Linked DNA regions of Homo sapiens: region 2 is linked to region 1. Evidence: fine-mapped expression QTL. Tissue or cell type: whole blood. Region 1 holds a variant in brackets; the other region holds the start of a gene. All regions are shown on one strand. Distances are from middle to middle.

Region 1 (2,763 bases):
ATGCTTTGGCAGGCTACACATCTATTATCTATTTAATTCTTTTTTTGTGTGTGTGTGTGACGGAGTTTCACTCTTGTTGCCCAGGCTGGAGTGCAATGGCACAATCTCAGCTCACTGCAACCTCCGCCTCCCGGGTTCAAGCGATTCTCCTGCCTCAGCCTCCTGAGTAGCTAGGATTACAGGCATGTGCCACCATACAAAAATAATTTTGTATTTTTAGTAGAGGCGGGGTTTCTCCATGTTGGTCAGGCTGGTCTTGAACTCCCAACCTTGGGTGATCCACCCACCTCAGCCTCCCAAAGTGCTGGGATTTCAAGCATGAGCCACCACGCCCGGCCCACATCTATTTAATTCTTAGAGCCAACCACCACCAAAGATTATTCCTGCTGGTAAAAAATGCTGATCGCTACTCTGGGATCTCATCATCTACATTGAGATCAGGCAGATTTTCCCACCACATCCTTGGCCTATAGAAAGCAGCTGCCTGAACATGTTCAAGGGTGCTGGGGCTTCTCCCATTAAAGCATTTTTCAATGCTTTAGAGAAGAAACTATTCCTTAGGCTCTTTCAGGACCAAGTGTGGTGAGGGAAGAGGCACAGTTACATATAATAAATCACTCCTTTATTTCTATCTCCTTAGAGATTCTAATGGCTTAGGCCATTAGAATCCTTCCTATACATTATTCCAGAGAAATTCTGGCAACTCAACACCATTAAATGTAACCTACCAGTGAGTCCAAATTTCAGCCAATCAACTAAGCAAATAGTGCCATTCACAGCTGCTCTAGCTAATACATTTGTTTCAGCTAGCTTTTGTTGTATAACAAACTATCCAAAACTTAGTGACTTAAAACAACTGTTTATGTTTTTATGATTTTATAGGATAACAATTTGGGCTGGGCTCAGTGGAGGCAACTCATTTGTGCTCTACGTGGTGTCAGTGGGATCATTCATGCATTTGCAGTCAGTTGGCAGTTTGGCTGCCAGATGGCTGGTCTCAGATGGCTTCATTCATATCTTCCTATTGGTGCTGGCTGTTGGTAAAACCACGTATCTTCAGTAGGTTAGTCCAGGCATCTTCAACATAGAGTCTAATCCAAAAACAGCAAAAAAGAAAGAAAACCCCAA[T/C]GTGCAAGTGCTTTCCAAGTCTCTGTTTGTATCACATTTGCTAATAATGTTCCATTATCCAAAGCAAGCACATAACCATGCCAAAAATCAATGTGTAAAGGAATTACATGAAGGCGTGATACCACTACTGTAATCATCTACAACATTAAGTCCAAAACTATCTGGAAAGTGTAGTATATCAGGACTACCTTAATTTGGCCCCAGTTCAATGTTATCTTCTGTGCTCCTGGGTCTAATACCTTTAGAATTCATCCCCATACATACTAGCCTGGTTTCCTCTAATGTTAAGTTAACAAAATCTTATGATTCTTTTGAAGTATAAGACTTTTCCTGCTGAGCTAGACTCTGCTCTTCCCACCTCCGTATATTCCGGGAACTGACTCTAAATAAAGGCCATGAGAGTTGGGAGCACTGGGGCTGAGAAAGAATAGGGATCTCCCTTGCAAGGCAAGTGCCTCATATGGGCTTATTACAGGCTTTCAAACAAGGAAAGGCTAATATCATTAGACAAGAAATGAGAGGCTTCTTCCACTATCAAGGGAAACTCAGGGATGCTTGGGGGTTTCAACATTCTCAGTTTCATCCAAATCCACCAAAATGTCCCCATTCCTAGTCTCAGAGTCCTACTCCTTTCAAATTACTGAGAAAACTTTCACATATGAGACTTAGCCAGTCTGTGAATGATTGATTTGGGTTGAATTTTTCAGTCATGTCTTTCATGTCTAGTGATTCCTGTAATTAGAAGGAATAAGAGGTACTTTCAGGGCAGTCTTAGAAGCCCTCTGGTGCTCTGAATATGATTTGAGGTGAAAGCCCTAAACTTGTTAGTTTCTTCCTGTAAGCACCCTGGTGCAATCAGAAGCAGCCATCCCACATTACATTCCTTATAATCATCTTTACTACCATAATGGTTAAATGCAACAGCTACTTGGCCTCCAGAAACTTGCCTTTCATTGGTATTCAACCCTAGCAAGAACAGATGATAATTTAATCAACCATGATGTCAATGCATGCCATAGATTACTAGTGGCAAAGAGTTCAGCTCTCAATTCAAACCAATCCAACACTAACAACAAATCAAATCAATCCCAGAATGTCAGAATTTGAGAATCTGTTTCCTATGACCACACCTAGTATCAAGTGCTAGTATCAGCCAGAGTCCAGTCATAAAAATAGAGTGTATTTAATATTAGGAACTTGTAATAAAGATATAAGAAGACTGAAAGAGCAAAAAAGTGGATGCCAAATATTAGAACTACAGACAGCAGCTACCTTTCTACTACCTATTGCTACAGGCATGACACATTCAGGAACTAGAAACAGGAAATAATTCCCCCTCCCACCTTCCAGTCCCCAAGGCCTTCCCATTTACTGAACTTAACAGGAAGCTAGCTGGCAAGGGAGGCTGGCAAATGAAGTTTGTCAAAATTCCAGCCCTGGCACATCAGAGCAGAGGAGAGGAGGATGGACTTAGAGTTGAGAACAGGAGGTACATAACCAACTCACTCCTCAATCAAAATCTATCTGGATGAAGTGGAGACATATCCATTAAGAGATAAAAAATAAAGAGACTATAAATTCCAATTAGATTGTAGCACAAGGAATTGTCTTAAACTCTGTGGCATCTGACCCTGT
Region 2 (2,623 bases), 52 kb after region 1:
GCAGCCCAAAGTGGGAAACCGCGCCGGCCGTCACGTGACTCCAGCTCCCCCCGGCAACCGGCCCGCCCCCACCGAGACCCCGCCAATCCGGAAGGGAGGTCCAATTTGGCCAGGCCAGGGCGTGTTCCACCGGCCCAGTAGCCTTGCTGCTGCGTTATCCCTAGACTCGCCCCACTTGCCTCGGAGTCTCAGGCCGTTGCCTAGGTCCTCCCGGTAAAACCCTGGAGACTGCTAGGGAGAGGAGCAAGGGAGGGGCCAGCGCGCAGAAGTGCGGACGCAACCCGGCGGCCGCGGGCGAGGCTTATGCAGAGCTTCAAGAAACAGCTAGGGAGACCGCAGGAGTCTCCAGAGCGCGCGCGCGGGCCCTCCCCGGCCCGACCCACGCGGCGCGGCGTGGTGACGCCCGCGCGGCCTGAGGAAGGGGCGGGGTCGGGGCGGGCCTCCGCGCTCCTCCCGCCCTCTCTGTGTCCCTACTCTCCCTCCCCTTCCCTCCCCCACACTCGGCCCCGTCAGCTTGGGGGTGCCTTCGTCGCGCAGCCTTGCGTCGGCCCGGCCCGGCCAGGCCAGCGGGCAGATGCCCCGAGCTGCCGCCGCCGCCGCCGCCGACTCGGCCGGTGGCGGTGTGGGAGGTGGGCGACCAGCCCGGGGCCGCTGAGTGTGACGGACGCAACTGGGGGCGCCGGGGGCTCCGCACGGACCATGTATTTTCTGAGCGGCTGGCCCAAGAGGCTGCTGTGCCCTCTGGGGAGCCCGGCCGAGGCGCCTTTCCACGTTCAGTCCGACCCGCAGAGGGCTTTCTTCGCCGTGCTGGCCGCGGCCCGCCTCAGCATCTGGTACAGCCGAGTAAGTAGAGCCGCCCGCCGCCTTTCGCCGCTGCCTCCCCGGCCTCCCGGCGCCGTCCCACCCCCAACTTCCACCCAGAGCCTAGGACTCCTGCCCCTTCGTGCCAGACCCACCTGCCTTCGCAGTCCGCGTCCTCGTTCCACCGAATTGGCCGCAGGTACCCGCCGGCTGCAGGCACGTCCTCCAGCCGGCGGTCCGGGGTGGATGAAGTCGCTGCTGCCGAAAATCCCTGAGCCTCCCCGCGTTGGACCGACGGCCGCGGCGTGCAGACTCCGCACGCTCCCCGGCCGAGCCCAGACTTGTTCTTCTCTCCCTTCCCCCATTCCCCGAGGGACAAATTTGTTTAAACTTTCCACAATTAGAAATCCGGCCGCTGTGGTGCCCCAACCCTCCCTTACTTTAAAGGTCGCCGTTTTGGAGTTAGGGAAAGCCTCTTGGGCTTTACCCAGCGCCAGACTTTACAGGCCTGTAATAACTTATTTCTACAAACTACAGCCTGAATTCTTTATTCTTCACTAAAGGTCTGGTTATTTAACTCCCCTCTTTAACCCCAACATCCCTTCCCCACTTTCGAGTTGGTCTTTTTCTTTGCTGCTGCTCTTGGACTCTTCGGAATAGGGGGTTAAAGGAGCGGAAGTAGAACTCAAATCTGTCCGCGGAACTCCCAGTTATAACACCTGGAAATAATAAGGCTTGGGAGGAGCATGGAACTGAATTCTGTTTTTGCTTTAAGTCCTGGTTATCTTTTTCTTTCTTGTATTGAATTACTGAGTAGATATGAGAAAGAAATAAGTGGTGGATGGGATACTCCCTACTCTCTGCAAACACTGCTATAACTTTGTCTATGAGAACGACAGAGTTCAGAGTATAAAAATGCTTTTTTTCCTCCCCAAAGAAGGCAGTACCAATCGATGTCAGAGTGAAGTTTTTCTCCTTTCCAAGTTAATTTGACCATGTGGGGATAGGTTGTGATCTTGTCCTTATTAGGTGTTCGTGAAATACTGGTTTTAGTTTGTTAAAATCCCCAAATCTTTGTGTGTTGCTGTTCCATTACCTGTAATGCCCTTGACAGTCCTCACCCACTTCCCTGGTAATACTGGTGATGGGATTTAGTGACGGGTAATTCTGGTGTCTCCTTTGACTGTCATAGTTGGGCTGTAAATCAGACTATTTGCCATCAAGTTTTGGCTGATCTAATTTTCAAATGCAAATCAGAACAAAACAAACTTATAAAATCGTAATACCAACAATATGACTATTTTGTCTAGTGCCTGATTGTATTTTGAATATATATGTATGTATGTGTGTGTGTATATATATAAACATATGTGTAAATATATATAAAGTATCATCTGGTTCCTAAATGAGATATTCGTTTACAATGTATATGCCAGTTGAATAATTTTTAATTTGTTTAGGTGTATATAACTCAACTTTAAAGCACATGCAGAAAAAAATAGAACTTGAATTTAAATTGTCTTTTGAATTTAATACATAATTCCTTTTGAATGTAACAAATTTAGACTTTCGTCTAAAATTTAACTTTTCTTACCTTTAAAAAGGCAGACCTAACTTAATTTTAAATAAAAGTAAACAATATGACCTATGAATTGACCAGAAGCCTGTAAACCACTTTATTCCCCCATAAGAGAAGCATAAACATATGCTTTAATTTAGGGACATTGTGAATATTCTTAAGCATGTCTATTGTTTGGTTTTGGAGTTACATACGACATCTAGAAATCCAAGGCAGTTCTGGAATTTAAACTATTCATACTCT

Evidence for each region. PIP is the estimated chance that this variant, and not a neighbour inherited with it, causes the effect.
Region 2: it holds the start of INCR1, and the variant in region 1 is fine-mapped to the expression of INCR1 in whole blood (TOPMed, PIP above 0.99). The same link has a PIP of 0.9 or more in lung.

What each region holds. Positions count from the first base shown.
Region 1 is chr9:5,576,421-5,579,183 of GRCh38, forward strand. The region is part of intron 1 of INCR1 (interferon stimulated noncoding RNA 1); the gene reads right to left. Among named protein-coding and RNA genes, the nearest start is that of RIC1, 51 kb to the right of the region's middle. The variant T/C (reference allele first, on the strand shown) is at 1,129.
Region 2 is chr9:5,628,611-5,631,233 of GRCh38, forward strand. It overlaps INCR1 (interferon stimulated noncoding RNA 1), which reads right to left and starts at 1,117. Exons shown (of 3, transcript XR_007061406.1): 1 at 957-1,117. RIC1 (RIC1 partner of RAB6A GEF complex) reads left to right here and starts at 497. Exons shown (of 26, transcript NM_020829.4): 1 at 497-843. The coding sequence starts at 700. RefSeq lists a silencer at 257-796 and an enhancer at 817-1,317.